Linked DNA regions of Homo sapiens. The protein of the gene in region 1 purifies or fractionates together with the protein of each later gene. This does not show direct contact. Each region holds a gene or a part of one and is shown in the gene's direction. Other genes may lie near its edges. The genes, in order: LPL and LMF1.

Region 1 (3,816 bases):
AGTGAAATGAAAGTCTCTAAATACAAATTTACTAGAGGATGTGTAAATTTCCTACTTTTCATTACATACTCTGGACCCAACAGAGGGAAATTGGAGCTGTCAGTGAGCCATACATGCAATCTGGTACAGGATCTATGGATTGAATAGACTTTTTTTCATGGAACTACACAAAGCCAGTCTTAGTCATTTCAAAGAAAATTTGTGGTCATTTCAAAACCACCAGCAATTCCAGGGACACCAAGTTGCATAATTCTAGGGGAAAGTGGACTAAAAGTGAATGGCAGCCTCTGGAGTTATACTGAGCATTATTCTTAAAATGTCAATTTGGCAAATAGGTGGTAAGCGAGATCTGTCTGCCAGATTGTTCACATCATCTCTGCTTTAAAAAGATTGATCATAGAATATGTTAAAATAAGACCTGTGGAGAGGAGGTATGAGCTATTTAAGGTGGAAAGGTGTGGGAGAGGGTGAAATTAGTTTTAAATTTTCTAAAGCACTTTTTAACAGGAAAAGAAGTTCTTGGGCACTGAAGGCAGAATTAGATTAAAAGTATTCAATACTCTTCCATTATCAGAGAAATAGTAAAGCTACTAGAGTGCTTTCTGGTTGGGAAGGAAGAAGGCTACCAACATCTTCAAATAAAGATGAGAAGTAGAGCATATTCTTGGTGGATGAATGGATTCACGTGTACTTTTACTATATGCAAATGAAAAGAGCTTTAAAGATCAATAGTTTAGCAAGACTCTTATTTGAATAAGTGATCTTGGAGTGTTTACCCATTGTAACAAAACTCCTTTTCTCATAATTAGAATCATTAAGAAATTTCTCCTACATTTTAGATGACGGAGGTGTGTGTGCACGTGTGTGTGTATGTGTGTGTGATCAACTCATTGCATATTTCTTAAACCACAATATTGTTTAAGGAATTTTAGAAAATAATTACTCAATAGGAAAATGTTGGCCAATCCTCAGATATTTAGATAAGGCTGATTCAAATGCCTATTCTTTCACTGTTCTCACTATGACACTCTTATTTTTATTATTGGCCTGACTTCCGCAGTTATTTTGAAGTTACAGATTTTTAAATTTTGAGTTGAAAAAAAAGAGCAAATTTAGATTAAGGAATGAGAAGTAGTCCTCGCAGCCTCATGAATCTCCTGAAATTTCGAACGGCAAAATCTAAAATCTACAAGTTATTACCTTCTTACAGTAAATAGGTGGGTGTTATGGGTCGTTTTCTTTAACTTCTTTACTTGAAAAGGAATTAAATGATTTCCCTTTAACATAACTTCCCTTTGATTGTGCTCTGCTTCATGAAGTCTGATTTTATTTGCAATATAATTTACTTCAACTATTCACTGTACCCCATGAAGATTCAGCAGCATTTATAACTATTGTCCATAGTTTCAAAAACTAGGTTGTCTTTCTCTTCTCACCAAGTTTGGGATTAACTATGAAGAACCAAAGTGAACCCTTTCAACAACAAGGTTTGCTGTGGTTTTCAAGTTTTGCCTTTGTGTGGAACATTGTAATGACATAGTGGGAAAAGAAATATTTGGGGAGAGAATTAACCATGGCTGATACATAGCACGGGTATTTCTGAACAACCTACTAAATTATTTCTTAGAACATTTTGAAGTATATCTTGCCATAGGAGTGGGAACAGTTTCATACAAAAGCCTCCTCATGCTTCCAACTTTTCTTTAAAAAATTTTTTTTAAATTATTTTATTAAAAATAGAGGCCCGGCCCGATGGCTCACACTGGTAATCCCAGCACTTTAGGAGGCTGAGGTGGGCAAATCACTTGAGGCCAGGAGTTTGAGAACAGCCTGGCCAACATGGTGAAACCTCATCTCTACTAAAAATCCAAAAATTAACCAGGCCCGGTGGCTCATGCCTGTAATCCCAGCATTTTAAGAGGCTGAGGCGGGTGGATCACTTGAGCCCAGGAGATAGCGACCACCCTGGGCAACATGGCCAAACTTCATCTCTACAAGAAATACAAGTTAGCCTGGCGTGGTGGCACGCACCTGTGGTCCCAGCTACTCAGGAAGCTGAGGTGGGAGGATCACTTGAGTTCGAGGGTGCAGTGAACCAAGATCGCACCACTGCACTCCTTTGGCCTGGGACACAGAACAAGACCCTGTCTCAAAAAACAAAACAAAACAAAACAACCCCCCCCCCGCCCCACACACACACAAATAGTGGAACTATAGCACACAAGAGCCATGCATGAGTCAGTGTTCTCCACGAAAGCAAGCTTCAAAGTGGAACTGAGAGACCGGGCTCTGATCCTCACCCTCCCACTAATACCAGGGTAGCCTCAGCCAAGTCACTTAAATTCATGTCTTGAGAGAAGACAGAATTAACTAAGGAATCCCCAAACAGCAGTTCCCTTAGTTGAAATCACAAACGTACACACACATACCCTGACTAAGGAGAGCTTCAAGAAAGGCTGGAAGACTTAGGAGAGGTCAATGGTGACAATCTTAATTCAGAGTTAAGGTTGTCTCTCTGTCAACTTTGCTCAACGTTGGAGCATCTGTTGTTCTCTTGCAATCCACATTCGTTTTCGAAAACACTTCAGAAACAAAAATAGCATCAGCGGTGGTTGCCTGTGAACCTAAAACATATCATTCCAATGAATAAAATCAAGCAACCCTCCAGTTAACCTCATATCCAATTTTTCCTTTCCAGAAAGAAGAGATTTTATCGACATCGAAAGTAAATTTGCCCTAAGGACCCCTGAAGACACAGCTGAGGACACTTGCCACCTCATTCCCGGAGTAGCAGAGTCCGTGGCTACCTGTCATTTCAATCACAGCAGCAAAACCTTCATGGTGATCCATGGCTGGACGGTAAGGGAGGCTCTTTGGGGAAGAGTGGATTGGGGTGGTGAGGTATCCTGACTGGCCTGCCCAATTGTTGGGGACCCAGTGATGGGTCCGCACCCCACATCTCACGTGGATCTCCTTACACTTGAATAAAGACAGTTCTGGCTCAGGTGGGATCTGAAGCCACAGGTTCATGAGAACTCCCCCTAGGCAGTGCCAGCCTTCATTTTAACACTGTACCTGGTTGGTGCCCTTGAGCCAGAGCTTCCTGCGAGGTTGGTAAAGGATGCTCTGCCCAGCTACTGAGCAGAAGATAGGTGATTGCTGTGGGGAACCGGTGGAACCCTGGCATGATCCCGCATCACCCAGCACATTGCCAGGAGAACCTTTCTAAAGAAGACAGCATGGAAGAGTGAGGAGAGGGCTGGAGTGGAGTGAGGAAGTGTGGCGTCCATGCTGGCTTTGCCATTCTCCAGCTCTGTGCTGTGGATCAAGTCACTTGTCATCTCTGGGCCTCCATTTACTGATCTGTAAAGCAGAGGTTGCACTAGATGTCCCTAAAAACACTCTACTTCCAAAATTTTCCAGTTGTAAACTTTAGGGAGCCTTTCTGGAAATTAAAAAAAAAAAGGGCTGGGCAGGGAACTGACATGCTGACATGCCAGATGATTAGAAAAAGTGAAACTGTGATTAAATTTACTTTAAAAAATTGTTAAAAGTCCCCTCTCTAATATGTCACACAGTCACTTTAGATTATGTAGTTCTTGCTTAGTTTGTTTTAAAATGTTTCAATCCCAAGTGAGTAGACTGTGTAATTTATTTAAAAGGATTTGTGTAAAATGGCTTGTTAAAGATATATTATCTATCCATTATGTCAGAGCTTGTGAATATTATAATACTAATTTCTAGTGAGAACTAACTAAAAATAACATTCATCTAGTCCACATTTCTTTTCCTACATAATTTAAGTGGCTTTGTTAT
Region 2 (3,816 bases), on another chromosome or scaffold:
TGAGTCTGTCTGGGTCGTGATCCCGTGCTGTCACCGTGAGTCTGTCTGGGTCGTGATCCCGTGCTGTCACCGTGAGTCTGTGTCTGGGTCGTGATCCCGTGCTGTCACCGTGAGTCTGTGTCTGGGTCGTGATCCCGTGCTGTCACCGTGAGTCTGTCTGGGTCGTGATCCCGTGCTGTCACCGTGAGTCTGTGTCTGGGTCGTGATCCCGTGCTGTCACCGTGAGTCTGTGTCTGGGTCGTGATCCCGTGCTGTCACCGTGAGTCTGTCTGGGTCGTGATCCCGTGTTGTCACCGTGAGTCTGTGTCTGGGTCGTGATCCCGTGCTGTCACCGTGAGTCTGTGTCTGGGTCGTGATCCCGTGCTGTCACCGTGAGTCTGTGTCTGGGTCGTGATCCCGTGCTGTCACCGTGAGTCTGTCTGGGTCGTGATCCCGTGCTGTCACCGTGAGTCTGTGTCTGGGTCGTGATCCCGTGCTGTCACCGTGAGTCTGTGTCTGGGTCGTGATCCCGTGCTGTCACCGTGAGTCTGTCTGGGTCGTGATCCCGTGTTGTCACCGTGAGTCTGTGTCTGGGTCGTGATCCCGTGCTGTCACCGTGAGTCTGTGTCTGGGTCGTGATCCCGTGTTGTCACCATGAGATGGTGTCTGGGTTGTGATCCAGTGTTGTCACCGTGAGTCTGTGTCTGGGTCGTGATCCCGTGCTGTCACCGTGAGTCTGTGTCTGGGTCGTGATCCCGTGCTGTCACCGTGAGTCTGTGTCTGGGTCGTGATCCCGTGCTGTCACCGTGAGTCTGTGTCTGGGTCGTGATCCCGTGCTGTCACCGTGAGTCTGTGTCTGGGTTGTGATCCAGTGTTGTCACTGTGAGTCTTTGTCTGGGTTATGATCCAGTGCTGTCACTGTGAGTTTGCTGCTCAGCTCCTCCAGCTTTGACCACTGGTGGGTTTCCCCTCCTTCCCCGCAGGGATGCTTCCGGCCCAGCTTCTGTTTCTCTGCCCCAGCCCTAGAATGAGTTGTTTCCAAGGAGCCCTGGTTCTTTTTAGGGGAGCATAGAAACTTCAGTCTGGGCACTGGGAGGGCCGTTGCTCCCGGGGTGTCACAGCTGCTGGCCCTCTTCCTGGGTAGAGCTAGGCTCTGTGTGTCACTATCTCATTTCACACATTTGATTGCTTCTCTGTCGTATCCACCTATCCATCTGTAAGTATACGAAGGTCAACCTGGTCCATGCCGATGACTCTGACTCTCACCTGGCACACGGTGTATTCCAGCCTTCCGTCCTGGAACATGGTGTATTCCATCCTCCCGTCCTGGCACACGGTGTATTCCAGTCTTCCCTGCTGGCCCATCTGAATCCTCCCTCTCTGCTAGTGGGAACCTGGCTCCCCTGACTCCTCTAGCATCTGCTCAGCCCTGGTGCACGTGCGAGAATTGTCCACCCAGGCCCGGGGGGGAAAGCCCTGGAGTGCAGCGTTTGTGTACAGCTCCTTCTGGCCTTGCGGTCTCCACTCAGAACATTTTCCGGAGTTGCTTAGGCGGCTCCTGCCCTCTGGCCAGTGTGTTTCTGTTTCACATCCGTGCGTGTGGAGCCTGTATTCTATCTGCATCCCCCAACCTCCTGGTCGGGTCTTCCCCCAATAGTTTGTGCACATTGAAGTTCATCTCGTGTAATGCTCAGTGCTGTGGGCTTTGCCTCCATCACCCCAGCTCCAGCCCCAAGTCCCCCGTGCATGGGAGTGACCACTTCCCCTGCACCAGCCCCTGGCACGCCCGGGTCTGTCTCCCGTCCCTCTGGTTTTGCCTTTTCCAGTGTGACATACGAATGAAATCACGCAGTATATAGCCTGTTGGGTCTAGATTCTTTTGCTTAGCAAAATGCACTTAAGATTCATCCATGTTATTGCCTGAACCAACAGCTGCATTCTTATCTCTGATTATTTTTCTGTTGCACAAATGCACCTCCGGTTATTTATCCACTTCCACCGTGAAGGATGTCTTCCTTGTTTCTAGTTTTTAGTGGCTATGAACAGAGCTGCTATGAGCATCTGCATGAGGCTTCTGTGCGAGCACACTTTCAGGTTGAAGGCCTGAGAGGTGCAGTAGCTGATTTGTAAGGTAACCCTTCATTATCTGGGTCAGATGCCACCGTCTGCCATCCACAGTGGTAGGCCACAGCATCCCCGGCACAGCGAGGGCACTCCTGCTGTCCCGAACCTTCTGCAGCATTGGGCACTGTCCATGTTCGTGTTTTTTTTGTTTTGTTTTTTTGGTTTTTTTTTTGAGACAGTCTTACTCTGTCGCCGAGGCTGGAGTGCAGTGGCGCTGTGTCGGCTCACTCCAACCTCCGCCTCCTGGGTTCAAGCAATTCTCCTGCCTCAGCCTTGCGAGTAGCTGGGATTCCAGGTGTGCACCACTATGCCCAGCTAATTTTTGTATTTTTAGTAGAGACGGGGTTTCACCACATTGGCCAGGCTGGTCTTGAACTCCTGACCTCAGGTGATCTGCCCACCTCGGCCTCCCAAAGCGCTGGGATTACAGGCATGAGCCACCGCGCCCGGCCTGGGCACTGTCCGTTTTCAAGCACTTCGGCCATGTGACGTGTGTGTGGTGACAGCACGCTGTGGTTTTCATGGGCATTTCCGCAGTGATGAAGGATGTTGAGCATCTTTTCACGTGTTATTTGCCATCCGTACACCTTCCTATGTCTGTTCAGACCTTGTGGCCTGGTTTTTTCTTCCCACCTTTAACATTGGGTTGTTTGTTTTCTAATTATTGAATTTTAAAAGTTCTTTAAATATTCTAGATACAAATCCTTTATCAGATGTGTGATTTGCCAGTATTTTCTTCCAATCTGCGGCTTGTGTTTTCATTCTGTTAAAAGTAGCTTTTGCAGATCAAAAGTTTTTCAGTTTGATAAAGTTCAATTTACAGTTTCTAATTTCATAGATTATGCTTTTGGTGTTGTATCTAAAAACTTGTTGCCAAACCCAAGTCACATAGATTTTCTTCTATATTTCCATCTGGAAGTCTTATGCTTTTATGTTTTACATTTAGGTCTATGATCCTTTTTGGTTAATTTTTGTGTAAGGTGTGAAGTGTGTTCAGGTCCATCTTTTTGCATGTGGACATCCATCTGTTCCAACATGATTGTTACAGAGACTCTTCTTTGTTTTTTTATTTATTTTGTAGAGACTGAGTCTCACTATGTTGCCCAGGCTGCTCTGGAATTCCTGGGCTCAAGCGATCCTCCTGCCTCAGCCTCCCAAAGTGCTGGGATGACAGGTGTGAGCCACCACGCCCGGCCCAAGGCTGCTCTTTGTCTGTGTAGTTGCCTTTGAACCTTTGTCAGAATTTGTTCACTCTGTGTGTCGGGTCGGGGGCAGGGGGGCTGTGTCTGGGCCGTCTCTTCCATTCCATTGAGTTCTGCGGCTCTTCCTTAATCAATACTGCGCTGTCTTGATGTGGTCTTGATTAGCTTTTTAGTAAGTCTTGAAATTGGGTAACATGAGTCCTCCACCTCTGTTCTTTTCCAGATGATTTTGGCTTTTTAATCCCTTTGCTCTCCCATGTATATTCTAGAATCAGCTTGTCAGCCTCGGCGGAAGCACTGACTGGGTGTTTGGTTCAGATTGTGCCGAATTTATGGATCAAATTGACACCTTAATGATTTTGATTTTTCCAATCCATGAACATGGTCTATCTCTTCATATAGTTAGATCTTGTTTCATTTTTTTAATCAGTGTTTTGTAGTTTTCCATGTGCAGATTCCGTTTATATGTTTTTAGATTTATAAATGCATGGGGAAAAGTACATGTACTAGC

Evidence for each region.
Region 2: the proteins of LPL (region 1) and LMF1 purify together in Homo sapiens (affinity purification with western blotting, with the first as the bait; one study listed by BioGRID). This does not show direct contact.

What each region holds. Positions count from the first base shown.
Region 1 is NC_000008.11:19,945,482-19,949,297, forward strand, and holds part of LPL (lipoprotein lipase precursor), read left to right. Parts: intron 1-2,698; coding exon 2,699-2,859; intron 2,860-3,816. UniProt on the Homo sapiens protein: Key enzyme in triglyceride metabolism.
Region 2 is NC_000016.10:957,344-961,159, reverse strand, and holds part of LMF1 (lipase maturation factor 1), read left to right. Parts: intron 1-3,816. UniProt on the Homo sapiens protein: Involved in the maturation of specific proteins in the endoplasmic reticulum. Required for maturation and transport of active lipoprotein lipase (LPL) through the secretory pathway. Each LMF1 molecule chaperones 50 or more molecules of LPL.